Homo sapiens: one gene and its partner. The protein of the gene in region 2 binds, or shares a complex with, the protein of the main gene of each other region. Each region holds a gene or a part of one and is shown on either strand. Other genes may lie near its edges.

Evidence for each region.
Region 1: the proteins of APOBEC3F (region 2) and CBFB are in contact, whole or in part, in a cryo-EM structure (PDB 6NIL), measured with the Homo sapiens proteins. Residues at the interface, in NP_660341.2 of Homo sapiens: Glu289, Leu291, Ala292, Arg293, His294, Ser295, Asn296, Glu324; in NP_001746.1 of Homo sapiens: Phe32, Asp34, Arg35, Arg43, Glu54.

The regions. Positions count from the first base shown.
Region 1 is NC_000016.10:67,031,631-67,046,260, reverse strand, and holds part of CBFB (core-binding factor subunit beta), read right to left. Parts: intron 9,623-14,630; coding exon 9,506-9,622; intron 1-9,505. UniProt on the Homo sapiens protein: Forms the heterodimeric complex core-binding factor (CBF) with RUNX family proteins (RUNX1, RUNX2, and RUNX3).
Region 2 is NC_000022.11:39,030,767-39,046,349, reverse strand, and holds the start of APOBEC3F (DNA dC->dU-editing enzyme APOBEC-3F), read right to left. Parts: upstream 5,487-15,583; 5' UTR 5,390-5,486; coding exon 5,373-5,389; intron 3,414-5,372; coding exon 3,260-3,413; intron 2,268-3,259; coding exon of another isoform or gene 2,133-2,267; exon of another isoform or gene 1,927-2,132; intron 1,410-1,926; coding exon 1,130-1,409; coding exon of another isoform or gene 923-1,129; coding exon 808-922; intron 592-807; coding exon of another isoform or gene 474-591; exon of another isoform or gene 1-473. Other genes in the region: APOBEC3D (DNA dC->dU-editing enzyme APOBEC-3D), read right to left, coding at 14,034-14,152, 14,377-14,656.

The DNA of each region.
Region 1 (14,630 bases), on a different chromosome or scaffold from region 2:
GTGGCGCGTGCCTGTGGTTCCAGCTACTTGGGAGGCTGAGGTGGGAGGATCGCTTGAGCCCAGGAGGCAGAGGTTGCAGTAAGCCAAGATCACACCACTGCACTCCAGCCTGGGTGACAGAGAGATATCTAGTTTCAAAAACAAACAAACAACAACAAAAAAGGCCAGGCACAGTGGCTCAGAGCGCCTATAATCCCAACACTTTGGGAGGCCAAGACAGGCGGATCACCTGAGGTCAGGAGTTTGAGACCAGCCTGGCCAAAATGGTGAAACCCCATCTCCAATAAAAACACAAAAATTAGCCAGGTGTGGTGGCGGGTGCCTGTAATCCCAGCTACTTGGGAGGCTGAGGCAGGAGAATCGCTTGAACCTGGGAGGCGGAGGTTGCAGTGAGCCAAGATTACATCACTGCACTCCAGCCTGGATGACAGAGCAAGACACTGTCTCAAAAAAAAAAAAAAAAATGTAGAAAGTAGAAGGAAGGAGGGGAAGAGTGAAGGATGCTCTTCTCAGACATATTATTTCTGCCTTCTCTCACTTGGAATATGTAATTCAGGAAAGGTCATGAAAGAGAATTTCACCTTTACACTAAAATGGAAATAATGCAATCCAAAAGAAGAGAAAACGGGACTTCACAATCTTCAAGTGCTTCAGAGGTGCATTTACCATGTATGCAGATTCACGTACTCTAACTGGAAGGTACTATGACATACTAATTTTAAAACATTTTAATTTTTTTTTTTTCAGACAGAGTCTTGCTCTGTTGCCCAGGCTGGAGTGTTGTGGTACAATCTCAGCCCACTGCAACCTCCGCCTCCCGGGTTCAAGCAATTCTCCTGCCTCAGTCTCCCAAGTAGCTGGGATTACAGGCACATGCCAGCATACCTGGCTAATTTTTTGTATTTTTAGTAGAGGTGGGGTTTCATCACGTTGGCCAGTCTGGTCTCGAACTCCTGACCTCAGGTGATCCACCTGCCTCGGCCTCCCAAAGTGCTGGGATTACAGGCATGAACCACCCCACCTAGCCAAAACATTTTAATTTTTTCAGAAAGTCGACTTCCTCTCTTAGATTGAAAAATAACTAAAATAACTAAAATAAAAACTTTTCTTTAAAAATACAAACGCTCTGCCAGCTACAAAGGTGTCAAATATATATATATATATAAGCTTGCAGTTACCAGTTCTAAATTTTATGATTCCGTTATTATTAGAGTATTATAGTTTATCTAAAGCATATTTTTAAAAACCAGATTTCAATACACTAAACTGTCAATAACTAAGTGCTGTCAATTCATATTTTAGTCGAACTGAAATACTTAAAATCCAGATGTGACAAGGTATTTGTAAAGTTGTCTAATTTCTCTTGAAGAAAATCACACTCCAAAGCTTTACCATAGAGATCTTTTATTTGGAATGACTGGGCTATCTACAGAGAAGGAACTTCTTGAGCTTAAATAGGGATTTCTCAAAGCTAACATCAAGAAGTCCTGTAAACTCTGCCAAATTGTGGATGGTATATAAACAAACACAATATGTATTTTGGGACAAAGATCCTGCAGGCAAGTGCGTAAATGGTACCAGAAGAAGCAGAATCATAGACCTTTATTAGAAAAGGCCATTTAAAATAAAATTCTGTCCTCACTCATTAAATCCAATCTTGTTAGATTTTGCTTTATTTTATGCTCATAAAAATAAATTAAAAGACTTTTAAGTATAAAGTCCAGAAAGAAAAAAAATACAACTTATCAAAATTTTTAAAAGTAGCTACTCTAATGACATATACTTAATAAATACTTCTCGATGTCTGACATTAATGTATTTGACTATCAATTAAAATCATAAGCTATAAACAAGAATGTAACAACCATAGAAAAGTTTAACCTCTCTTTTTCTGAGGTCAATGTGGTAAAAACGAGATAGCATATTCAATTTCCACAGAAAAAAATGAACAGTAGCACTGTAAAGTTCATTTTTTTCCTTTTATGAAATGATTTTCATACCCCTTATCTTTAAAGTCATAAACTGGGATCGCAAAGTAAGTACATCCAATCATTATTTCAAAATCCCAATGAAGCTTTATGAGACACAGAATACATGTAAAAACCATTAATCTGACCACTCAAGACTAATAATTTATGGTCAACCATAATCACTTGCATTTATTTGAAATAAAAGTAATTGGAAATAAGTCCTAAGAGGAAAGATCAAAGGAACTGGAGTTGCCTGGTCTACACAATTTTAACTTAAGAATGATTTAAATTCTGATTAGTTGCTTTTCCCTTGTCTTTTGACAGCTAGATTAAAGAATTAAGAACATTTTGGCTGCCAGTGTTTGTAACACACCAGGATGGAACACTTGGGAAAGATGTAGTGTTCCAACATTGTTCAACTACCTGACGTGAAGCTTACCTAAGGCACACTGTAGCACAAACACTCTATCAATCAGTTAGCTATAATCTCACCCTACAGAACCATCAAATTGCCTAACTGTAGACAGGGGTTTACAATTTAAAAGGCATTTTCACATATTCTGGTACTACATTTAATTCTCACATGAGGCACATGAATAGGGCAGACATTCTGATCCTCATTTACATGTTAAGGAAAATAGTTATGACTGTCTTGACTCAAATCTAGAGCTCTTTCTATTATACTGTTATTAGTTTAAATCATTTCTGAGAAAGATCCTTATTAAGAGCCAATGTAGACAGCTCACCAGGTACCTGGGTATAAAAGTTTCAAATATATTTGAAGGATTATAAAATTCTGTGCTCTGACTTGGTCATATGTAAGGTATATACTTATAATCAGTCACCCGTTAACAGACCTTCCTTATAGAAGCCCTTGATTTGAAAATATTCTATAGCCACATAAGCAACAGAATGAATAAAAGGACTAATTTCTATGAGCCCATTTTCTTAAATCATAAAACTGTATTTCAAATAATAGAGAATATAGAGCTTTTTGTTTCCGCTCTATTAGGATTCTAATTTTTTCTGAGTTCGCTAAATTTAAGTGAGTATTATTGTAGCTGGCCTCCAAGATGGCCTCAATGATCCCAGCCTCCTGGTATTCACACCCCTGTGTAATCCCTCCCTCCCTGTTGAATGTGGGCTAGACTTAGTGACCAGCTTCTAATGAACAGGCTAAGCAACAAGTGACTCAAATAATAGATCATAAAAGGTATGAAAGTGACTTGAAGAATGGATCATAAAAGGCATGGTGGACCAGGCGCAGTGGCTCACACCTGTAATCCCAGCACTTTGGGAGGCTGAGGCAGGCAGATCACCTGATGTTAGGAGTTTGAGACCAGCCTGGCCAACATGGTGAAACCCTGTCTCTACTAAAAGTACAAAAATTAGCCACATGTGGTGGCATGTGCCTGTAATCCCAGCTACTTGAGAGGCTGAGGAAGGAGAATTGCTTGAACCCGGCAGGCAGAGGTTGTAGAGCTGAGATTACGCCACTGCACTCCAGCCTGGATGACAGAGCAAGACCCCGTCTCAAATAAATAAATAAATAAATAAAAGGCATGGTGGCTTCACTCTTTTTCTCTCTATGGAGAAGCATGACTAGGAAGTGAAGCCACCTACCAACAGGCAGATCCTTCAGTTCTAGTCAAGTCTTCAGAGACTGCACAGTCCCAGGCAAAAGCTTGACTGCAACCTCATGAGAGACACTGAGGCAGAACCACCCAGTGCAGTCAGTCCCAGGTTCCTGCAAAGGGGCACAAGGAAACCTTTGGGGGGGTGACTGAAATATATCTTGACTGTGGTAGCATCTACATGGGTGCATACATTTGTTAAAACTCAGGCTGGATGCAGTGTCCCATGCCTGTAATTCCAGTACTTTGGGAGGCCAAGGTGGGAGGATTGCTTAAGGCCAGGAGTTAGAGGCCAGCCTGAGCAAAATTTTTTTCTCTTCAAAAAAATTTAAAATTAGCCAGATGTGGTGGCAAATATCTGTCGTCCTAGTCAGTCAAGAGACAGAGGCAGAAAAAATAATGAAACACTTAGAAACAAATGATTTTTTAAAAAGCCTGGGCGTGGTGGCTCATGCCTGTAATCCCAGCACTTTGGGAGGCCAAGGCAGGAGGATCACTTGAGGTCAGGAGGTCGAGACCAACCTAGGCAATATAACAGAACCCCATCTCCACAAAAAATACAAAAATAACTTCAGGCATGGTGGTGCTGGGGTTACAGGTGAGATGCTGTGGTCCCAGCTACACAGGAGGCTGAGGTGGGAAGATCACCTGAGCTTGGGACATTGAGGCTGCAGTGAGCCATGACGGCGCCACTGTACTCCAGCCTGGCAACAGAATAAGACCTTGTTTTGTCAGGGGTAAAAAAAAAAAAAAAAAGAAGGGCAGGAGGATCTCTTGAGCCTAGGAGTTTGAGGTTTGAGGTTACAGTGAACTATGATTGCACCACTGCACTCCAGCCTGGGTGACAGAGTGAGACCCTCTCTCTTAAAAAAAAAAAAAAAAAAAAAAGTAAAGAAACAAGCTGCAATAACAAGCTCCCACCACAACCTCACATGCGCTAAACCAACCTAACCTGCTGTTCAAAATTGTTCCAGCCAGTTTTCCCATCCCGATGACAGTAACCCCATAGTCCCAGTTTCTCTAGCCAAAAAGTTGGAGTCATTCTTTTTTTTTTGAGATGGAGTTTCACTCTTGTTGCCCAGGCTGGAGTGCAGTGGCACGATCTCAGCTCACTGCAACCTCCCCTTCCCGGGTTCAAGCAATTCTCCTGCCTCAGCCTAAGTTAGAGTCATTCTTTATTCTTCTCTTTCTCACACGCCATATCTAATCCATAAGCAAATCCTATTGGCTCTATCTCAAAATACATCCAGGATATGACCATTTCTCACTACCTCTACTGCTACCACCCTGGTCTCTCACCAAGATTACTGCAATAGCCTGCTTCACTTTTGCCCCCTATAACCTATTATTAACCTAGCAGCTAGCATGAGTCTGTCAAAACCTAACGTAGATAATATCATTCATCTGCTCAAAAGCCTGAGCTAGGTGCAGGAGCATGCCTTTACTCCCAGCTACTTCGGAAGCTGACCAAGAGCATAACTTGAGTCCAGGAGTTTGAGTCACCCTGGGCAACATACCAAGACCCTGTCCCTAAAATATAAGCAAACTAAACACTCAAAACTATTCCCCATCTCACTCAGAATAAAAAGCCCATGTGGTTACAATGGCCTACCATGGTCACATGAACTGGCTCATTGTTATTTCTGATTTCATCTACTACAACTTCTTTCACAGTCTACTCCAGCCACAATGGCCTGCTTGCTGTTGATCAAAAACAGGGTGCCACTCTGGGGCCCTTTATAATGGCTGTTTCCTTTGTCCGGAACATCTCTCCTCCACCCCCAACCCCTGCAGGGCTCATCATTCCCTAACCTCCTTTGTGTCTTGGTTCAGGTATGATCTTCCTTACCCAGACCACTCAATTTAAAACTGCAAACTTCCTGTTCATTGATCATCTTTATCCTATAATACCTTTCCTTTTTCCCAAAGGTACTGTCACTTTGTAAGCTATTACATAACTTATTATGTATATTGTCTGTTAAGGATCTCTGTTCACTGATGTATCTCAAATACCTAGGACAATGCTCAGTACACGTAACAGGTGTTCAACAAAGACCTTCTGAATGAATAAATTTTTTGATAACTGTGACAGGTACAGTAGTGGTCAAAACACTTTACATACACTATTTCAGTTACTCTCAACAGCAACCCTGGGAAGTACCCATTAATCTCATTCTACAACTAAGGATTACAATGATTAAACAACATGCCCAAAGTTACACTGTAGTAAATGCAGAAGCCAGAACTTAACTCAATTTTGCCTAACTCTAAAGCCTTTACAACTATAGTTCCTCAAAACTGCGTATGAACAGGACGAGAACTAAGCTGCTTCAGAAGGTAACTCAGTTGAGAGAATATGGAAGAAGACACTGATTTGGAATCCAATATAAGGAACAGAGGCAAATAATTAACATTTGGAGAAGTTCCTTCAATTTTCTTTGCTTCCAGTCCTAGTCCTGTGGGGACAGAAACAAAACCTAATGGTTATAATAAAACAGACCATAAAAAGAGAAAAGAAATTCGAGACCCCACAGTCTGAGCTCCACGGATGAGAAAACACAGGGCAATGCCTTTTCTCTAAATTCACTGGAGAACTTTATTACAGTGGCACGGAACAGTACAGTACGAGTTTTTGCCTTAAAATGCTTTTTTTTCTTCTAGAAAAAAAGTAGTACAGAAGTAGTACAGATGTTGACAAAATTCTATCTGAGAAATACATGACCTATGCATAAACATTTACAGATTTACATCTGAGGGAAAGATACTGATTTCTACCAGTGTCACCATTTATGGAACACAGCCACACTCAATTGTTTACATATTGTCTAGGGTCCCTTTCACACCACAACAGCAGAGTTACAGAGATGAGTAGTTGTGACAGAGACTGAAAGCCTGCAAAACTGAAAACATTTACATTTGTCCCTTCACAGAAAAAAAAACTTCTAAAACCAGTATTAATAAAATGTACATTTCCTGATAGCCTGCATAGTTCTATCACTCTTCCTAATAGAATTAAAAACATATCTTTTTAATACATTCATGTATTGCTTTAACAACGTTACAGCCTAAAATGGATCACATATATGACAGTGGTCTTGTAAGATTATAATGAATCTGAAAAATTCCTATTGCCTAGTGACATCATAGCCATTTTAACATTGCAGTGCAATTGCTTAATTTTTATAGATTTAGTGCGGCCTAAGCATACTATGTTTATATAATCTACAGAATCACATTCATTCACCACTTACTCAACTGACTGACCCAGAGCAACTTCCAGTCCTGCAAGCTCCATTCAAAGTAAGTGCCCTATACAGGTATACCATTTTTTAAATACTGTATTTTTACCATATCTTTTCTATGTTTAGATACATCAAGATACACAAATACTTACCAAATTGTGTTACAGTTGACTACAGTATTCAGTACGGTAACATGCTGTACAGTACAGGTTTGTAGCCTAGGAGCAACAGACTATACCAGATAGCCTAAGTGTGTAGTAGGCTATACCATCTAGATCTGTGTAAGTACACTCTATATATACACAATGATAAAAATCACCCAGCAACACATTTCCCAGAACATATCCCTACCATTAAGTGACACATGACTGTACTAGAATAAACCATCTCACATTTTTGTTATTTTTGGTCATATAACTAAAAACATCTCAATGGTTTAAGTCCAAGGATTATGTGGTCTTCACACTAGTGAAGCAGTATCATTAAATTAATTCAAGCAAACTTAATTTCTGGTAGAGTTAACAACCCATTTACTAGTTATTAAATACCGGAAGACTTCAGTAACACTGAGATGTTGCCCTTGAAGTCTTAAAATAGTTTTGGGCTAAAGCTGACAAAAAACAAATTTTTTTTTTTTTTGGTTTACGTCTTTAGTATCTGAGCTACCATGTTAAACAAACTTTAAGGAAGTATTCAAACAAGAAAAAAAATAATTTCTTCATTTAGTCACACATACACGCACCAGAAGCACAAAAAAACCAATAATCGTACAAGGACTTCTCAAATTCTTCCTTATATATTGTGTAAGAATTACCAAATAGTAAAATCTGGAACATTCACTTTTAATTTTCCAAGCAAACAAGCTAATACACAGGAAAGCAAACTGCTTGCTTAGTACTCATTTTTTTAAATCTTATAATCTGTTTTCCCTTTTCTAATCCAAAGATTGTTTTGTCACGCACAAAAGATCAAATCTAATTCTACAGAATTGGAGAAAACAAAAAATTCATTTTATATATACATATATATGTATATACATACACACATATACGTATATACACACACATATATACATATATACACACACATATACGTATATATACACATATATACGTGTATATATATATATACACACAAGATTAAATTAAATATTTCTCAAAGGAATATTTAGACATTTCTCACATTTTACATAAATGTGGCAGGTTATGCTATTCATGATGACACTTAGAAAATTAATTTAGTAAGTTGATAGAAACGGGTACAAAAACACACTGCAAAACAAACACACACAAAAAAAGTATGAAACTGGATCCAAAAGGGTGTTTTGAGTATAAAACTATATTTAAAAGAGGGTTTCTTCTTTAAAAATTTTATTCTAGAAGTCAACTCCTTGACTTCTCAATCAAGAATCAACCAATCCAAGATGCTATTCATTAAAATTTACCAGGCCAGGTGCAGTAGCTCACTCCTATAATCCCACCACTTTGGGAGGCAGAGGCAGGTGGATCACATGGTCAGGAGTTCAAGACCAGCCTGACCAATATGGGGAAACCCTGTCTCTACTAAAAATACAAAAAAATTAGCCAGGCGTGGTGGCGCACACCTGTAATCCCAGCTACTCAGGAGGCTGAGGCAGGAGAATAGCTTAAAACCCAGGAGGTGGAGGTTGCTGTGAGCCAAGATCACACCACTGCACTCCAGCCTGGGCAACAGAGGGAGACTCCATCTCAAAAAAAAAAAAAAAAAAATTACCAAAATCATAATACATTTAACGTAGACCTGAAATAAGGCTCTCAGCTTAAACATTTTACCTATATTTTTGTATCTTTAACCTAAACTTCTAACATCGAAACTGTAAGACATGTTCCCAGAAACTTTTTCTCAAAACAAAAAAAAAGTATTTCCAAGTTAAAGTTTTCACATTGTTTTTCTCAAATGTAAATTTGCTGTTAATGGAATTAGAAAGTTACCTATGAGCTATTTCTAAATACTATTAATTTTTAAACCTAGAGAGCTTTTTTCCGTTTTCCTCTTGTTTTATTTTTATAGCACTATACTTACATATATTTTTGTAAACAAAATATATCTCCTCAAACTTTTAAAGAAATTGTTATGTTACTTTCCTTAAGGGTTAGAATGTTCTATGACAAATATTATGTACATGAAATTAGGAATGGAGTGATACAAAAGTTTAACAGTGGTTTTAAAAAATTATATTGGCCGGGCACAGTGGCTCACGCCTGTAATCCCAACACTTTGGGAGGCAGAGGTGGGCGGATCACAAGGTCAGGAGTTCGAGACCAGCCTGGCCAACATGGTGAAACCCCATCTCCACTAAAAATACAAAAATTAGTCAGATGTGGTGGCGGGTACCTGTAATCCCAGCTACTCAGGAGGCTGAGGCAGGAGAATCGCTTGAAACTGGAAGGCGGAGATTGCAGTGAACCAACATCACGCCACTGCACTCCAGCCTGGGCAACAAGAGCGAAACGCCATTAAAAAAAAAAAATTATATTACATCCTTATAACATGGAATGAAAACAAATCTGAGCATATGCTGGTATAATCAGATCTGTGATCTTTATTAAAATGTAAATTACCAGATAATCTCTAACAAAACAACCCACAGTATTTTAAATTGCAAAGAAATGTTTCCTACCTTGCCTGCTTCTCTTTCTAAGTCGACATACTCTCGGCTAGGTGTTTGTCGCTGTTCTCCCTGCCAGCTGGCCGGAAAAAACTGGAGAGACAGATTGGTTCCTGTGGCCACAAAAGCCTTTTAGAAAAATCAATACAAACAGGATCAGGAGCAGGACATTACATAAATTATGCAAGCAGTCATTTATTTTTACATCAGTTTATGTCTTAAGCCAGGCAGCACAGAGAATACTTAAAAGTAAAAAAAAACATGCACTCATCATTTTTCTTAAGTATTAAGTTACAAACATCTGATTCCATTTTGAGGACATTTGCCATTGGCTGCTTAAGTATAAAATCAGACATGGAATCAATACTTTCTTTCAGGTCATTTTTTGCTGACGTTAGGATCTCACACTGCTAATGTCTAACCAGAAGCCACTATCCATCTCTGCATTTAAAAACTTCTATTTTTAAATGTAAAAATCACTCAAAATCTAAAGATTTTGAATTTTAAAGAATACCACAATTTAAAATTGTATAAATGAGACACTTTAATTTTCCTTGATTTCCCTTGCTGAAACACTGCATAGCAGGCAGTACATAAAAAATGCACTTGGAATTGTCTCTCCTCTGATAAACCATACATTGGCATGGGATGTGACAGTACTCTCTAAAACCCTAGATGATTTTTAAAAATATGTCTTTTCTCACATTTGACTTTAGGAGAACTTGGTCTGACTACAACAAAGAGAAAAGTATTCATCTAATAAATATTTATAGATTAGATTTATAAATATAAAAGATTTGGATGTTAGAGCTCAACAGATGCAACAATCTAAAACCACTTCAATAAAGTGTCATTTTATGTAGGCCTTGAGCAAGTTACCTCTATATTTCCCTCAGGCAAAAAACAAAGACATTACCCCTTTCCCAAAGGAAATTAAGAAAAAAAGAAGTAAAAGCATTTTTGAAAAAATACATTTTTCATCATCTAAATGTAAACTCTTCTTTGCTGAAACCAGAAAAAGTTTTTTGTTTGGTTTATTCTACTAATTAAGTTCTGAAGCATAATTGGTTTCCATGCATAGAGTCTTCATCTCAAATCAAGAGGTTCACATTTGGGGCAATTTGTTTAAAGCCATCAACCAAGTTAGCTATCCAATAGTTCCCCTGATGGTTAACAGCTTAGATTCTTTAGAGGTAAAAATTATACTTCCTATTTCTATTACTGGCACTGTCGGTACACTTGTCAACCTAAATGCTAAATCTCTAAACCTCTCTGATGGCATTTCCCTAATCAACTGGGGTACCATTTTCATGTGGTAAATGTTTTATATCCATAGAAACTGAACTAACATCAATATTACAACATCATTTTAAAAAATCTTTCAGGCCAGGAGCAGTGGTTCACACTCGTAATCCCAGCCCTTTGGGAGGCAAGGCAGGTAGACCATCTGAGGTCAGGAGTACAAGACCAGCCTGGCCAACATGGTGAAACCCTGTCTCTACTAAAAATACAAAAAATTAGCTGGGCATGGTGGCAGACGCCTGTAATCCCAGCTACTTGGGAGGATGAGGCAGGAGAATCACTTGAACCTGGGAGGCAGAGGTTGCATGCAGTCAGCCGAGATTGCACCACTGTGCTCCAGCCTGGACAACAAGGCGAGACTCCATCACAAAAACAAAAAACAAAAAAAACTTCCCATGTACTACGAGCATAAATCTTAACAAAAAACCCCCCAACACTAGTTAAAAAAAAAAAAAGTTTCTGGGAGGGAAACTGCCCAGGCTGTACGACCTGAAGCATAATTCAGTTTTCTCACAAATCAATTATTTGTAAAGTGCTTAAAACAGTACCAAGTAAATGCTATGAAAGTGTCTGCTGAATAATATGATAAATAACTTTAAGCTCAACAAGAAAGCCAACTTTTTCAGCTTCAGATAATGAAATTCTCAGAGCAGAGTGGTGGCAGAAAAGACACAGCCCATGAACGACTGCCCCGTGTCAAAATCCCTGTGGCTTGTTTCTTCAGTATTCACGTAGTAGCAAATCCTTCCACCTCCAGTGTACCCCAAATCAGTTCTGTGCTAAGACACTCTGCAGATCGTATTACCTCATCTCCTGTCTTGATGCCAACCTCAGAAGAGATTTCCTGCTTCATCACTATATGTCCATTATCTCATAAAGATCCCTCTCTGAGACAGAAGTGGTAAACACAGATCATTCTAGAATAACATTTTCCAAACTTATGTGACCATGGAATTCTTTTAATGAAATACCTACATATAGGTAAGAGTTGGAAAAAGTCTGTTCCAAAATATTAATATGGTGTCAACATCGTCATAGGAAAATAAAGACGAAAATAAACAAAATGAAAACATTAAAATGCTACACTAGTATGACGCCTATATTTAAGATTTCCAGGTTGTCTTATGCTTTGTAGGTTTCACAAATTATAAAATAGCACACCTTGTGCCAATCCAACATACTTTTTACCATTCAATCTTTAGAATTAGAAATATGTATTAGTTTTTACTCTTCTCACCACAGAGTAACCATACTTCTTATAAATATTTTTTCTTTATTTGATTATTAGTGTTGAAGACGTCTCCAACATTCTTAACTACATAAGAATTGGTAAGAATAGGCCGGGTGCAGTGGCTCAAGCCTGTAATCCCAGCACTTTGGGAGGCCAACACAGGCAGATCACGAAGTCAGAAGTTTAACACCAGTCTGGCCAATATAGTGAAACCCCACCTCTACTAAAAATACAAAAAATTAGCCGGGTGTGGTGGTGTGCGCCTGTAATCCTAGCTACTCGGGAGGCTGAGGCAGGAGAATCGTGTGAACCCAGGAGGCAGAGGTTGCAGTGAGCCGAGAGCCAAGATCGTGCCATTGCACTCCAGCCTAGCCGACAGTGCAAGACGCCGTCTCAAAAAAAAAAAAAAAAAAAACAACGGTGAAACTCTGTCTCTACTAAAAATACAAAAACAAATTAGCCGGGTGTGGTGGCAGGCGACTGTAGTCCCAGTTACTCGGGAGGCTGAAGCGGGAGAATGGCGTGAACCCAGGAGGCGGAGCTTGCAGTGAGCCGAGATCGTGCCACTGCACTCCAGCCTGGGCGACAGAGCAAGACTCCGTCTCAAAAAAAAAAAAAAAAGAATTGATAAGAATAAATCAAGGCTGGGTGCAGTGGCTCACTGAGGCAGGCACATCACTTGAGGCCAGCAGTTGGAGACCAGCCTGGCCAACATGGTGAAACCCATCTCTACTAAAAATACAAAAACCAGCCAGGCGTGGTGGCAGGCGCCTGTAATCCCAGCAAGTCAGGAGGCTGAAGCAGGAGGTGGAGGTTGCAGTGAACGGAGATGGCACCACTGCACTCCAGCCAGAGTGACAGAGTAAGATCCAGTCTCAAAAAAGAATAAATCAGATTCTACTACAGATTCTTCGACCTGTGTTCACTTTTATTTAATGCTGATTGGGTTTTACAGTTAAAAACTCAATTGGCATAAAATAAGGAGGCTGATTGAGTTTTATAGTTAAAGAGAGATGATCAACACAGCCCTTAAATTATTTCACATCTAAATGCAAAATGAGGCTGGGAGTGGTGGCTCACGCCTGTAATCCCAGCACTTTGGGAGGCCGAGGTCGGTGGATCACCTGAGGTCAGGAGTTTGAGACCAGCCTGGCAAACATGGTGAAACTCCGTCTCTACTAAAAATACAAAAATTAGCTGGGCATGGTGGTATACGCCTGTAATTCCAGCTACTCAGGAGGCTGGGTCAAGACAATCACTTGAACATGGGGGACGGAGGTTGCACTGAGCCAAGATCATGCCACTGCACTCCAGCCTGGGCAACAGCAAAATGAATTCTTCATTAACCTCACTGATACATCAAGAAGATGTTCCAAATAAGAAGAGGACAACTGGGGCAGGAGAAAGGTTGGGAATAGTTTTGAGAACTATGGATATCCTTGCCATTTATGGCTGCTGTCAAAACAGGCAAAATAATGCCTTTTTCCACAGCCAAATAGGAAGAAACCCAGCCTGTTCATAAGTCATGAGATAAATTTCAGGCATTAAATTAAGCAGCCTCTAAATTCAAATAATCAAGTACCTCTGATATAAAAGGTATTGTGAAAAATAGCTGTATCCAGAGGGGTTTATACAAAATTAATGAGGTCTCTACCCTCTAGGAGCTAAGGATCCTGTAATTAAATGTGGGTTAACACTGAATTAAAGGAGGGAAACTAGAAAGAGAGAAAACTAGGAAACGTGAAATTCCTCTCCAAATACCAATAGTTACATTATTTAACAAAATAAGACATGAGCCGTCTTAAGTGCAAACCTCACACAGCATTCAATCTACCTTCTTTAACCTTTAATACTTCTCAGAAATTTAAAACTTGTAAAATGTGTCGAATCAGATACTTGTTTTATTTTTGGAGACCGGGTCTCACTCTGTCACCCAGGCTGGAGTGCAGTGGTACGATCATGGCTAACTGCAGCCTCGACCTCCCGGGCTCAGGTGAGGATCAGATTATTTGGAAGCGGGGAAGGTCTAGAATGTCTAATTCATCCTGGAAATAAATTCATGACAAACACTAACCACCTGTACTACTACTATAATATTACAGCATTTCAGATATCCTATGGGTTGAATTCATAATTCCATTCAGCAAAGTCTGAGATGACAGAAAACACCCTACTAGCTATGATTCACCAAATTTCCAAAAAAATTCAGCTTTCAAAGATAGTGATGATAATACAACACATGGGGCTGCGTATGGTGACGCCGAGCCTGTAGTCCCAGCTATTGGGAGGCTGAGGCAAGAGGATCGCTTGAGCCCAGAAGTTTGAGGCTGTAGTGCCTCATGATTGTGCCTGTGAACAGCCACTGCACCCCAGCCTAGGCCACACAGCAAGACCTCTCTCTTAAAAAAAAAAAACGAAACAAGACCAGACGCGGTGGCTCACACCTGTAATCCCAGCACTTTGGAAGGCCGAGGTGGGAGGATTACTTAAGGTCAGGAGTTCAAAACAAGCCTGGCCAAGATGGTGAAACCCCGTCTCTACTAAAAATACAAAAAAATTAGCCGGGCGTGGTGGTGTGTGCCTGTAATCCCAGCTACTCAGGAG
Region 2 (15,583 bases):
AATTGTATCTTCCCCACATTGATATGTTGAAACCCTCATCCCCACCTCCTCACAGGATAACTGTATTTGGAGACAGGTCCACTAAAGTGGTGATTAAATTAACTCATGGCCCTTAGGGTGGGCCCTAATCCTGTCTGACTGGGGTCCATAAACGAGGAGGACATTTAGAGGCAGAGAGACCCCAGGGGTGCAGGTGCACAGAGGAAAGGCCAGAGAGGACAGGGCTGGAAGGGACCCCCTGCCAGCCAAGAGGAGCAGCTGCAGAAGACACAACCCCGCCCACCCCTCCACCTTGGACTTGCAGCCTCCAGATCTGTGAGAAAATAAATGCCTGCCCTGTGGGCACCCGGCCCGGGGGCATCTTCTATGGCAGTCGAAGCCTGAAGTTTCCACAGAGGCTGCTCCTTCTCAGGGACTCAGGTCGGCCTTGAAGGATGTTGCTCAAAGCTTCTGGCTGTCGGCCTTGTGAATATTCATGCCCACTTACGTCCAGTTTTATGACAAATTCGATTATGCCAGGGAGATGGAAGGAGCCAGGTTGGGGATCCCAGGCTGTGGGGAGGGCGGCCTCGAAGGTGGATGGAGGTTGCTCTGGAGGCAGAAGGGGCCTCTCACTCATAGGAGGGGCCCAGGAAAGAGGGAGGAGGCAAGAAGGGGAAGGAGCACAAGGAGTGTGGGTGAGGGGTGTAACCATGAGGGCAGGCAGGGGGCAGGACGGAGGGCAGGAGGGCCTGGCCAGGGGAGGCCTCAGGAGGATGAGCAGGAGGCGAGAGGAGACAGACGATGAGGCCAGAGGGAGACCCTCACCTGAGAATCTCCTTTAGCGTGCGGTGCAGGAATGCATAATTGTCATCGAATTTGTACCAAGGCATGAATGGCTGACCTTCACTGTACACAAAGTTTTCCCAGCAGTATGCAAATTCTGAGACGAAGAGGCAGGAAGCAGTCAGGCTCTGCCCTGACCCTGGGCCCGCGCTCCCAGGCCTGGTCTCCTGGCTGTCAGTTGCTGTCAGTGCTGGCCCCGCCCCTGCAGGCTGCCCTGGGACACCCCCAGCCATGGCATTGCAGATCCATCCATCTTTCATGCTGTTCCTCCCGCTCACGCTCCCCTGACCCCTCCACCTCTCACCTTCATCGTCCATAATCTTCACGCGGGCCCCTGCCTGACTCAGCCTGCAGAGCGCCCTTCGGTAATCTCTTTCCCAGTAGTAGTAGAGGCGGGCGGCGGAGATGGTCAGGGTGACATTGGGGTGCTCAGCCAGGAATTCGGCCAGCTTCGCCACACAGTCCGGGCAGGGGGTCCAGGATACAAACCAGGTGATCTGGAAACACTTGTAAGCAGGCAGCTGGTTGCCACAGAACCAAGAGAGGAAGCACATTTCTGCGTGGTGCTCAGGCTGGGAATACACCTGGGAGAGGAGCAGGGGGCAGGGGATGCTCTGAGAGGGGGAGCAGGAGGAGTGCAGGGGTGGGGCAGGGAGAGGAGGGGCCAGGACAGGAGCCCAGGGGATCTTGCCATTGAAGCTCCTTTCCTCCATCCCCCCTGTTTAGTTTGAGTGATTGTCTGCTCCAAAGCTCACGTTCAGTGTTAATGGCTATTGTAATGGCCTTAAGAGGTGGCACCTAGAAGAGGCTATGAGGCTGTGGGGGCTGCACCTTTGTGGGTGCTACTGGCGTGTTTATTCAAGGGCGACTTCAGCCCCTCTTTCTGTCTCTTGCCCTCTAGCTGGGGGGGCAGTATGTCAGACTAAACTGCTTCCTCTTGTCCCCGTGGCATGGAGCAGCAGTGACTCGACATCCCAGGCCACTCTGTCTGGAGCATCCCCTGAACTTCTGGCAACAACCTTTACCCCCACGTGACTGTGCAGCTCGCAGGCCCTGGAAAGTTGCTGGTGCATTGACAGTGGACTTCCCAGAGGCCAGAACTCGAGCCCATACATTTCTGTTTATTGTAAATGTCCCCATCTCAGTCCTGCTGTTGAAGCATCATCACAAAGTGCACCAAGACATGAGCTTCCCTTCGTTTGGAAGTTTTCCCAGCCCTGTTCAGAGCCTCATGCGTGAATTCTGGCATCCATTCTCCCAGGCATCCATTCACCAGGCATCCTCAGCCCCTGCTGTGGCCTGGCCCTCTAGGGTCTGCCTTGTTCCCTGCCTGCGGTCAGCTGGGGAGGCCACTGGACCTGCGCTGTCCCATGTGGTGGGGCGCACTGGCCAAAGGGGCTACTGAGCACTTGAAATGGGGCTCTGATGAAAGACCTGGGCACCTGAAAAATACACCATACACCGCTCATTTATCTTTTTTTGTTTTTTGTTTTTGTTTTGAGACGTAGTTTCACTCTTGTTGCCCAGGCTGGAGTGCAATGATGCAATCTCGGCTCACTACAACCTCTGCCTCATGGGTTCAAGCGGTTCTCCTGCCTCAGCCTCCCAAGTAGCTGGGATTACAGGCGACTGCCACCACACCGGGCTAATTTTTTTTTTGTATTTTTAGTAGAGACGGGATTTCACCATGTTGGCCAAGCTGGTTTTCAAACATCTAACCTCAGGTGATCCACCCACCTCGGCCTCCCAAAGTGCTGGGATTACAGGCGCGAGCCACCCACCAAGCGTGGCCTACACAGCTCATTTCAAAGACTCAGTGTGACAAAAAGAAACTTCATTATCTTGTCAAGAATTTTATGTTAATTAATGTTGAAGTAATATGTTAGCCACATTGGATTAATTAAATATTAAAATTAGGCCGGCGCTGTGGCTCACACCTGTAATCCCAACACTTTGGGAGGCCGAGGCAGGTGGATCACCTGAGGTCAGAAGTTCGAGACCAGCCTGGTGAATATGGTAAAATCCTGTCTCTACTAAAAATACAAAAAAAAAAAAAATTAGCTGGGCGTGGTGGTGGGCACCTGTAATCCCAGCTACTCGGGAGTCTTAGGCGACAGCATCGCTTGAACCCAGGAGGCAGAGGTTGCTGTGAGCCGAGATCGCGTCATTGCACTCCAGCCTGAGCAACAAGAGTGAAACTCTGTCTCAAAAAAAAAAAAAAAAAAACACAAGGCCTTTTGTGCAAAGGCAAACCCCCTCCACGATCCGATCCCAGGACGGTCCAGCAGGAAGGTCAGGGCCACGGACTTGGAAAGTGTGGGAGAGAAGGACACACTGGATAGCCCGCCGCCGGGCACTTCACTTATCAGTGCGTGGTTTGCTTTCCCAGCTGGCTTAGCTCCTGCCTGCAAAGTGATTGAAGTCCGGGTGGTACCTGGCCTCGAAAGATCTTTGCGTCCAAACGGGGCCTTGAGGGACCCTTTGTTTTCACTTCGTAGCACAGCCAGACGGTATTCCGACGAGAAAGGATGGGTCTATTATAAAAGTTGTAGGAGAATGTGTCTCGATACATTCGCTCCACTGTGTTTCTGAAGACACAAGAGAGAAACCAGCCAATGTAGAGAGCGCTCCCGGGAGCCCTCAGGGCTGATGTCCACTAAACACAGCCCCCTGCATGGCTCTGGGCCTCCCCAACCCCTCCACAGCCCTGAGAATTTTTGCTTCCTTCCCAGGCAGGAAGACCGGGGAGAGAGCAAGAAAAGGGGATGCTGGCATGGGCAGCAGGGGCAGGCTGACCTCTTCCAGCTCAGGGTCCAGCTCTGGTCGTTCCAGGAGTACATTCCCCACCTTCCCAGTATTTCTCCCACCCATTCTCCAACGCATTAGTAAAATGCAAAAGAGAACAAAGTTCTTGGCTGGACATTATGGCTCATGCCTGTAATCCCAGCACTTTGGGAGGCCGAGGTAGGCCCATCACTTGAGGTCAGGAGTTTGAGACCAGTCTCACCAACATGGTGAAACCCAGTCTCTACTAAAAATATAAAAATTAGCCAAGCGTGGTAGTGGGTGCCTGTAATCCCAGCCACTGTGGAGGCTGAGGCAGGAGAATCGCTTGAACCTGGGAGGCGGAGGTTGTAGTGAGCCGAGATCGTGCCACTGCACTCCAGCCTGGGCTACAAGAGCGAAACTCCATCTCAAAAAAAAAAAAAAAAAAGAGAGAGAGAATAAAACTATTCACCCCAAAATAATAGATTTTAACCTTTCAGCCAGTTCCTTCTGACATTTCACCTCTGTATATTACTATTGTTAAATCATGGTAGAACCGAATTCTGAGGCCCAGGCCACTCTTCTAAGTGCTGCGCGGATGTGAGCTCATGTGAGGCTGCCCTAGGCCCGCACGGGCCATTCCCATCTTACAGAGGAGGTGCCAGAGGCGCAGAGAGATGGGGTAACCTGCCCAGGCCACAGAGCTGGGGACGGATGGGGCTGGGGCCTCTTACCAGACCAGCCCTGTCCAGTCTCTGTGTCACCAGCCTTGCAGGAGGGAGCCATTGGGGACCAGACTCTCTTCTTACTAAATTTTAAAATAATAGCATTTCTCCTGATCATTGAGTTTTTTTCCCATATATTCCATGTTTTTTGTTTTTGTTTTTTTTTCTTTTGAGACGAAATTTGGCTCTTGTTGCCCAGGCTGGAGTGCGATGGGGCGATCTCGGCTCACTGCAACCTCCGCCTCCTGGGTTCAAGCGATTCTCCTGTCTCAGCCTGTGGAGTAGCTGGATTATAGGCGCCCGCCACCACACCCGGCTAATTTTGTATTTTTAGTAGAGACAGGGTTTATCCATGTTGATCAGGATGGTCTCGAACTCCCGACCTCAGGCAATCCACCCACCTCAGCCTACCAAAGTGCTGGGATGACAGGTGTGAGCCACCGCACCCGGCCACTATATTCCATGTTACTCGTGTCATTTATAAACAGTGAATGCTGATAGTGGAGGAGGAGCGTGTGTTTGGGGTCATCTGCATCCTCCTCTGCCCACAGTGGAGACATCCTTGGAAGATACGATTTATCTTGTGCTTCAGAGACCATTCCCTCCCCACACCCTCTCCTAAGACTTGCTATTTAAGCAAAGTAAATGTTACAGAAAATCCATCAAAGCACTGTGAACAAAATTCCACATTGCTCTAATCATCCTTTGGTTCAATTCTCCCAGTTCCAGAGTTCAGGAATGGCGGAAAGAACACAGAGGGAGCACCCTCCCAGGGCCGGGAGCACCAGCCCTGCCATGACTTTCGGTGGCGGGGGAGAGTCTCAGCAGGGCACCTGGGCTGGGGCAGGTGGGGAAGCGGCCTATTCAGAAGCAGCAGTGGGGCAACCACAGAGCAGGAAAAAGAGCCTGGCTGGGAGTGGCGGGGGCAGGGGAGCCAGAGGGGAGGGAGCCCAGGGCTGGGGCTGGGGCAGGGGGAGGCCAGGGCTGACGCCCAGCAGAGCCACCAGGCAGGAAGGGGCAGCAGAGGGGCCCAGCGGGTAGAGCGGGCAGCGGTACCTGAAGTGAGGCTTCATCCTTGGCCGGCTAGTCCCGACTAAGATCTTTGTCTGGAGCACCAGGGTTTCACTTTCTGCTCCAGGCTCCAGGTTTCAGGACAGCCCTCCCTAAAGTGACCTCCCAGGGCCTCGTAGTCATGGCCCCTCCCCCTTCCTGCTCAGGCGCTGGTGTAGGAGGCCCTGGGACGCTTTATCTTCCTCAGTCTCTCACCCTCTTTCTGGTTTTCTCTGGGGCCCTCCCCCTGGCAGAGGGACCTCTGATAAAGACAGGCCGCTCTGTGCGGCAGGACCCAAGGCAATTGCAAAGGGAAAGAGAAAGTCATTGCAGCCAGCGCCCGCGAGGTGGGTCCACACCAGGCTGAGCCAGCAGAGCACAAGCCCCTCCCCTGGTGGTCCCGCCCAGCTGGAGCCTCCTCTCCACCATCAAGACAGACAGGCTGATGCCTCCGCAGGGACTCCCGGATCCTGCCCTCGGGGATCATCCCAGAGACGGCCCCCACCCAGCGGCCATGGGGACAGGGAGGGAGAGTAAAGGGCCAGGTGTCTGCCTCTCCCCAGGCCTTCACCCTCGGAGGCCACCGTGGGAGGGAGGGACAGCAGGTGGGTGTGGGCCTCAGATGTCCCACCGGGATGCCATGCGCGCCCCCACACTGAGCTCTTTCCTTCCTGCTTCTCCTTCTTCCCCATCTCCTGCCCGGAGTTCCTCCCTGGTGGGCTGAGCTCTCGCCTCCTCTTGTCCCCATGTCATGGAAGAGCAGTGGCTGGTGTCCCAGGCCAGCCTGTCTGGAGCCTCCCTGCGCGTCTCACAGCTCCCTTCCCCTGGTAGCGTGTTCCCATGGCGCGGTGACCTAAAAATTACACAAGGGATGCATTTGGTTTTTTTGTTTGCTTTTGTTTTTTTGTGTTTTTTTGTTTGTTTGTTTGTTTTGAGACGGAGACTTGCTCTGTTACCCAGGCTGGAGTACAGTGGCGTAATCTCAGCTCACCGCAACCTTTGCCTCCCAGGTTCAAAAGATTCTCCTGCCTCAGCCTCCCATGTAACTGCGATTACAGGCACCCACCCCTACGCCTAGGCTAATTTTTGTATTCTTAGTAGAGACAGTGTTTCTCCATGTTGGTCAGGCTTACAGCCGCCCACCACTATGCCTGGCTAATTTTTGTATTTTTAGTAGAGACAGGGTTTCTCCATGTTGGTCAGCTGATCTCGAACTCCCGATCTGAGGAGATCCGCCCGCCTTGGCGTACCAAAGTGCCGGGATTACAGGTGTGAGCCACCGCGCCTGGCCACAATGTATAAATTTGGAAAGGAGATTTTATTTCTTGTTAAGGGTGACAGGCAGCAAGGTAGCCATCCCGCAGCCTGGGAAGAGCAGCCTCTGGGAAACACCAGAGACAGACATTTAGAAGCAGGAGGGGTTGGGGCAGGAGCTTTATGCTGAAGGGGTTGGCTAAACATACATATTCAACAGGCTATAGGAGGAGCTATGAATATTCATGTGGGTGGCTGCACTCCATGCTTATTGAACAAACATGCGTGTAACATATGATCCCAGGCAGGCACAGTGGCTCACGCCTGTAATCCCAGCATTTTGGGAGGCCGAGGCAGGTGGATCATCTGAGGTCAGTGTCAGGCCTCTGAGCCGGAGCTAAGCCATTGTGACCCCTGTGAACTGCACATATACATCCAGATGGCCTGCAGCAGCCAAGAAGTCTGGAGCAGCCAAAAAAACACAAAAGAAGTGAAACAGCCAGTTTCTCCCTTAACTGATTAACCAACCTTAAGACATTCCACCATTAGGACTTGTTCCTGCCCTACCCTAACTGATCAATCGACCTTATGACATTCTTCTTCTGGACAATGGGTCTCATGGTCTCCCACCATGCACCTGGTGACCCCCTCCCCTGCTGACAACAGATGACCACCTTCGACTGTAACTTTCCACCACCTACCCAAGTCCTATAAAGCTGCCCCTCTCTTATCTCCCTTCGCTGACTCTCTTTTCAGACTCAGCCCACTTGCACCCAAGTGAATAAATGGCGTTATTGCTTACACAAAGCCTGTTTAGGTGGTTTTCTATACAGACACGCATGACAGTGAGGAGTTCGAGACCAACCTGGCCAACATGGTGAGACCTGGTCTCTACTAAAACTACAAAAATTAGCCGGGTGTGGTGGCACGTGCCTGAAATCCCAGCTACTCGGGAGGCTGAGGCAGGAGAATCAGTTGAACCCAGAAGGCAGAGGTTGCAGTGGGCCGAGATCGCGCCACTGCCCTCCAGCCTGGGAGACAGAGTGAGACTCCATCTCAAAACAAAAAACAAACAAACAAAAATCTAAAAAAAAAAAAAGCAACCGTATAATCCGTCCTCACATTGCGGTGGAGACAACATTTAAATGTACCACAATTAAGCCTGTATGTCAAAAGGTCCTTTCAGGACATGAAGGCACCAAAATTTGCCAGGTCTGTAAACCATTCAGAACTAGTCCGTGGTCCGTGGTCTTCCGATCTGGAGAAAGTTACTGAAATCAGTCTCTTGTCCAGGGAAACCTGGAATTAGGGCTGTGGAGCAGGGGCTCTGTTGCTCCGCGTCCGGGCGCTGGGTGAGCTGTGATTGTTTTCATCTTTATCTGGAGGCAGTGCTTGTTTAGCTGCTAGAGCAAAAAAAAAAAAAAAAAAAAAACCTTGGGGCAGGCAGAACAGAGTTGACTGTTTAAGTGTGGGGTGTGTGATCTCACCCTTGCCTGGCACGGCCTGAGGTCCTGGTTGTGATTTGGTATCTGATTGCCATGAAGAGTCTGTTCTGGTTCTGCCCATCTTATGATTCTGTTTTAACATTACTGCTGGTCAGTTGTGTCTAAACTGCAAAAGGGCGGGGTGATAATGAGGCGTGCCTGACCTCCCCTCCCATCATGGCTGGGAACTCAGTTTTAAGGTTTTTCTGAGATACCCCTGGCCACTGGGGGCCAAAGTTGGGGGGGATCGGTGGGGGCTAAAGACTTTATTTTTAGTTCATAGGCCTTTGGACTAAGCTCTGATTTGTTTTTATTTAATCTTGCCCAAAATCCTATCTAAGGGGTCTGGGGAGTCATGCCTTACAACCCGTACATCCTCATCAGAGGGGTTCTATTTTTTTTTTTTTTTTTCCTATTGTATTTTAATGGAGGCCGAGTTTCACTCTTCTTGCCCAGGCTGGAGTGCAATGGTGTGGTCTCGGCTCACTGCAACCTTCGCCTCCCGGGTTCAAGCGATTCTCCTGTCTCAGCCTCCCAAGTAGCTGGGATTATAGGTGCCCGCCACCACACCTGGATAATTTTTGTATTTTTAGTAGAGACAGGGTTTCACCATGTTGGCCAGGCTGGTCTTGAACTGCTGACCTCAGGTGATCCACCCACCTAGGCCTCTCAAAGTGCTGGGATTACAGACATGAGCCACTGCGCCCGGCCCACATGGGTTTTATTTAACCCTATATATTGTGAGTTACTTTCCAATCTGACTCAGGCACAACATTATGTGACAAAGTAAAAAGACAAAATATTTTACCCCAAAACATGTTTCTTTGCCATATCTTGAAATGGCCCTGCAAAGTTGTCCTTTGTGGGGCAAAATTTGTATCTGTAAAGAATCTCTATTAACATAGCTGGATCTTTTTCTTCTAGGCCCTCCCGGTCCTAAACAGATGAACTAATTGCACCTTTTAAAGGCCTGAATGGGAAACATTTGTCATCTATTGTCTCTAAGGGCAGCCACTATGAGACTTCAAAAGAACCTTGATCTCCACAATCTTTTATCTTAACCTGAACGTTTCCTTTCTATGGATGCCAGGTCTCTAGACAAACTCAACCAATTGTCAACCAGAAAATGTTTAAATTTACCTGTAGCCTGGAAGCCCCCCAGCACTCCTGCCCTCACTTTGAGCCGTCCGACCTTTCTGGAGCAATCCGAAGTATTTCTTTTCTTTTTTTTGAGACGGAGTCTTGCTGTGTCGCCCAGACTGGAGTGCAGTGGCGTGATCTTGGCTCACTGCAACCTCTGCCTCCTGGGTTCAAGTGATTCTCCTGCCTCAGTCTCCCGAGTAGCTGTGATTACAGGTGCCCAGCACCACACCTGGCTAATTTTTTGTATTTTTAGTAGAGACGGGGTTTCACCATGTTGGCCAGGCTGGTCTAGAATTCCCGACCTCATGATCCATCTGCCTCAGTCTCCCAGAATGCTGGGATTACAGGCGTGAGCCACCACGCTCAGCTTCTGTATTTCTTAAATGTGTTTGATTGATAGCTGATGCTTCTCTAAAATATATAAAACCAAATTCCTATCTAAGGGGTCTGGGGAGTCATGCCGCACCCACACCACCTTGAGCACACACACATTCTCAGGACCTCCTGAGCCCTGTGTTACGGGCCATGGTCACTCGTATTTGGCTCAGAATACGTCTCTTCAAATATTTTACAGAGTTTGACTCTTTTTGTCGACAGGCCCAAGACCCAGGTGCCCACTCCCTGTCTCCTCGGAGGGCCCGCGCTTCCAGTTCTCTGGCACCTCTGGTTCCTGGTTGCCCTTCTACTTTCTGTTCTGCTTTCTCGAAAAGCTCTGAGCATCTCAAGCCTCCATGTAGTACCCAATTCTACTTTTTATTGAAAATCTTACTTAAACACCAACTTGATCACTGATCAAGTTTTCTTGGCTCTTTCTCAGTCACGTTCCCTAGGCTGTGTCCTAGCCCAGAGCTGCACTGCTGGGAGGGATTTGAGAAGGGAGGGGCATGAGCAGAAGGGAGGGCTGGGTGCTCTTGGGTGCAGGAGGGTGGGCTGGGTGGAACATGCAGGAAGGTCTGGGTGGAGGGGCTGTGAGGGTCAGGTCAGGACTCCCCTGTGAGACAGACACACAGGACAGGAACCCCTGCACTCCCCACTCAGGCCCGCCCACAGTGACTGTGGCTTGTTGCCATGTTGCCCTGTTTCTCCCAAAAATCAATATACTGAAGCCCTAACCCCTCTACCTCAATGTGTGGTTGTATTTGGAGACAGGTCCTTTTCAACAGATGATTAGTTAATTAATTAATTAATTTTTTTGGAGATGGAGTCTCACTCTGTCGCCCAAGCTGCAGTGCAGTGGCACCGTGTCGGCTCACTGCAAACTCTGCCTCCCTGGTTCAAGTGATTCAAGCCTCAGCCTCCCGAGTAGCTGGGATTACAGGTGCCCACTACCATGCCCAGCTACTTTTTGCACTTTCAGTAGAGGTGGGTTTTCACCATGTTGGCCAGGCTGACCTCCAACTCCGCCACCTCAGCCTCCCAAAGTGCTGGGATTACAGGCGTGAGCCACCGCACCCAGCCAACAGATGATTAACTAATTAATTAATTTTTTTTTTTTTGAGATGCAGCGTCACTGTGTCTTCCAGGCTGGAGTGCAATGGCACGATCTCAGCTCACTGCAACCTCTGCCTCCCGGGTTCCAGCGATTCTCCTGCCTCAGCCTCCCGAGTAGCTGGTATTACTGGCATCCACTACCACGCCCTGCTAATTTTTTTGTATTTTTAGTAGAGACGGGGTTTCACCATGTTGACCAGGCATATTTCCAACTCCTGACCTCAAGTGATCTGCCAGCCTCAGCCTCCCAAAGTGGGAGGATTACAGGCGTGAGCCACCACGCCCGGCCAAGATGATTAATTTAAACGAGACCTCTAGTGTGGGCACAAATTCACTTGGCGGGGGTCCATCAAGGAGAAGGGTGGCCAAGTGCCCTGGCTCATGCCTTTAATCCCAGCACTTTGGGAGGCCGAGGTGGGCAGTCAGGAGTTCGAGACCAGCCTGGCCAACATGGTGAAACCCCATCTCTACTAAAAAATACAGAAATTAGCAGAGAGTGGTTCTGGGCGCCTGTAATCGCCGCTACTCAGAAGGATGAGGCCAGAGAATTGCTTGAACCTGGGAGGCGGAGGTTGCAGTGAGCAGTGATCATGCCATTGCACTCCAGCCTGGGCAACAGAGTAAAACACCGTCTCAAGACAAAAACAAAAACAAAAACAAAACAAAACAAAAAGGCCGGGTACGGTGGCTCATACCTGTAATCCCAGCACTTTGGGAGGTGGAGGAGGGTGGATCACCTGAGCTCACGAGTTCAAGACCAGCCTGAGCAACATGGAGAAACCTCGCCTCTACTAAAACTACAAAATTAGCCGGGCGTGGTGGCGCATGCCTGTAGTCCCAGCTACTCAGGAGGCTGAGACAGGAGAATCGCTTGAACCCTGAAGGTGGAGGTTGCAGTGAGCCAAGATTATGCCATTGCACTCCAGCCTGGGCAACGAGAGTAAAACTCTGTCTCAAAAAAAAAAAAAAAAAAAAAAGATGATATTTGGAGGCAGAGATACCCCAGAGGTGCAGGTAGGTGCACAGAGGAAAGGCCACAGAGGACACAGCCAGAAGGGATTCCCTGCCAGCCAGGAGGAGCAGCCTCAGAGCAAACAACCCAACCCACCCCTCGAACTTGGACTTGGAGCCTCCAGATGTGTGAGGAAATAAATGCCTGCTGTGTGGGCACCTGGCCTGGGGCATGTTCTGTGGAGGCCACAGCATGAAGGGGTCATTTTTATAGAGAATCTCATTCTCTAATAACTTACATCTGCCTAGAAAATGACAAGTCAAATTTAAAGTGTGGAGAAGAGCCTCTAATTTCACATTTCATTTGCAAAGAAAGAATTTGGGACATACACGCAGTCTGGGTGGTGTTCACCATGTTGGGAGAACAGAGACAGCAACAGGTTTTATAAAAAGGAGAAATGGGCTAGGCGCTGTGGCTCACACCAGCAATCCCAGCAATTTGGGAGGCCAAGGAGGTCGGATCACTTGAGGTCAGGAGTTTAAGACCAGCCTAAGCCTGGCCAGGTGGCTCGCACCTGTAATCCCAGCACTTTGGGTGCCCGAGACGGGTGGATCACCAGGTCAGGAGTTCAAGACCAGCCTAGCCAAGATGCTGAAACCCCATCTCTACTAAAAATACAAAAATTAGCCAGGCGTGGTGGCACACCCATGTAATCCCAGCTACTCGGGAGGCTGAGGCAGGAGAATAGTTTGAACCCGGGTGGCAGAGGTTGCAGTGAGCCCAGGTTGCACCACTGCACTCCAGCCTGGGTGACAGAGCAAGACTTCATCTGAAAAAAATAAAAATAAGCCTGGCATGGGCAACATGATGAAACCCGTTTTTACTGAAAATACAAAAATTAGCCCGGTGTGGTGGTGCACGCCTGTAATCCCAGCTACTCGGGAGGCTGAGACAGGAGAATCACTTGAACAACAGAGGTGGAGGTTGCAGTGAGCGGAGACTGCGCCATTGCACTCCAGCCTGGGTGACAGGGCGAGACTCCACTTCAAAAAAAAAAAGGAGAAATGTTCTCTTGCCCTGTGGGAAAGCCCACCATGGGCACTAGGAAGTGTTGGGAGCTGGGAGGTTCCATTGCTGAGTCACTGCGTTTGGAGCAAGGAGTCCAAGACTTACAGCCATTTATGGCAGAAGCTATGGATAAAGCTGGTTTCAGGGTACAATGCACAGTTTCAGGAGTCAGGCTTGCAGATAAGTCCATTTTGGGAGCAATGGTGTGTGGCCTGACTGCTTTTCCTCCCTGGCTGCTGGCCTCTGTTTTAGCTGCGTAGGACATGAATGACCCAATTCGTAGGATGAAACTTACAAAGGATGTTTCTCAAAACTGGTTTTCAACTTACATATATTCATATCCATTTAGGTTGAGTGTATTTATTGATTTATTTTCAGGCAGGGTCTTGATCTGTTGCTCAAACTGGAGTTCTGTGGCGCGATCTCAGTTTACTCCAGCCTCCACCTCCCCGGCTCAAGCAGTCCTCCCACTTCATCCTCCCAAGTAGCTTAAACTACAGGTGCATGCCACCACATCTGGCTTTTTTTTGGTATTTTTTTTTGTAGAAATGGGGCTTTGTCGTGTGGCCCAGGCTGGTCTCAAACTTCTGGGCTCAAGCGATTCTCCCACCTCTGCCTCCGAAAGGCGTGAGTCACCAGGGCCAGACTAGATTGAGTTTAATAAGATTTGGTTGTGCGGCCGAGCCGGGTGGCTCACGCCCGTAATCCCAGCACTTTGGGAGACAGAGATGGGCAGATCACCTGAGGTCAGGAGTTCAAGACCAGCCTGGCCAACATGGTGAAACCCAGTCACTACTAAAAATACAAAAAAAAAAAAAAAAAAAAAAAAAAATTAGCTGGGCGTGGTGGCAGGCATCTGTAATCCCAGCTACTCAGAAGCTGAGACAGGAGAATCACTTGAACCCAGTAAGCAGAGTTTGCAGTGAGCTGAGATCCAGCCATTGCACTCTAGTCTGGGCGACAGAGTGAAACTCCGTCTCAAAAAAAAAAAAAAAAAAAAAAGATTTGGTTATGCTGGGGAGATGGGAAGAGTCAAGTTAGGGGCACCCAGGCTGGGGGAACAGGACTGGGGAGGTGGATGGAGAGCCTCTACAAGAAGAGCCTGGGAGAGCGGGGAGGAGGTGGTGAGGCAGGGGGGCACTATGGAATGGCCCTGAGGCCAGGAGGGGCTCAGGATGACCAGGCAAAAGCACAGCTGGTGCAGGATGGAGGGGAGGCCCGTGCAGCATGAGCAGGAGGCTAGAAGAGACAGACCATGAGGCCCAGGGAGACCCCTCACTGGAGAATCTCCCGTAGCCTTCTTTTCAGAAGTCGAAAGTTGGTTTGTAGTCCCTTCCAAGGCTTGAATGGCTCATCATCACTGTACACAAAGTTTTTCCAACAAGATACAAAATCTGAGAAAAAAACAAGGAGAAAGCAGTGAGGGCCCAGCAAGCCTCTCTCCCGGCCCTGGGCCCTCCCCTCCCAAGCCAGGTCTCCTGGCTGCCAGTTGCAGCTGGCGCCGGCCCCATCCCTGCAGGCTTCCCGGGGACACTGCCCCGCCCCACGGCATTGCAGACCCACCTGCCCCTCATGCTGTCCCTCCCGCACCCACTCTCCTCAGCCCCCCACGTCTCACCTTTGTAGCCCATGATCTTCACGGAGGCCCCTTCCTGACTCAGGCTGCAGAGCCCCTCCTGGTAATCTGTATCCCAGAAGTAGCAGAGGCGGGCGGTGAAGATGGTGAGATTCACGTTGCTGTGCCTGGCCAGGAACTCGGCCACCTCCCCTGCACACTCTGGGCAAGGGCTCCAAGATGTGTACCAGGTGACCTCGTAGTTTGTGTTAGGAGACAGTATGTCGTCACAGAACCAAGAGAGGAAGCACCTTTCTGCATGACAATGGGTCTCAGGATCCACCTGGGGAAGGAGGAGGAGGAGGGCAGGGGGAGCTCAGACCAGGAGCAGGAGGAGTGTAGGGGTGGGGCGATGGGAGAAGAGGGCAGGCCTGAAGCCCCAGGGCATTTTCTTATTTATTTATTTTTGAGACAGGGTCTCTCCTGTTGCCCAAGCTGGGGTGCAGTGGTGCGATCTGGGCTGACTGCAGCCTTGACCTCCCAGGCTCAAGGAATCTTCCCACCTCAGCCTCCTGATTAGCTGGGACTGCAGGTGTGTGCTGCCACGCCCGGCTAATTTTTTTGTAATTTTTGTGGAGACGGAGTCGTGCCACATTGCCCAGGCTGATCTCGAAATCTTGGGCTCAAGCCATCCTCCTGCCTCAGCCTACCAAATTTCTAGGACTATGAGCATAAACCACATGCACGACCTTATTTTATTTCTTTACTTTTCATTTTTCTGGGTGCATAGTAGGCCCCAGGGCGTTTTATTCATTGAGTTTCCCTTATTCCATCCTTCTCCTTCCTCTTTATTTTTTTATTATTTTTTTCTGAGATGGAGTCTTGCTCTGTTGCACAGGCGGGAGTGCAACGGCACGATCTCAGCTCACCACAACTTCTGCCCCTTGGGTTCAAGCGATTCTCTTGCCTCAGCCTCCGGAGTAGCTAGGATTACAGTCGCGCACTCCTACGCCTGGCTAATTTTTGTAGTTTTAGTAGAGACAGGGTTTCACCATGTTAGCTAGGCTGTTCTTGAACTCCTGACCTTATGATCCGCCCGCCTAGGCCTCACGATGTGTTGGGATTGCAGGCGTGAGCTACTGCGTACAGGCGTGAGCCACCGCGCTTGGCCCCTTCCTTCTTTATTTTATTGAGTCTTTTCCTGTCTCATCATGCCCTCAAGTGCGAATTCTGGCATCCTTTCCCCCAGGCATCCATTAACCAGGCATCC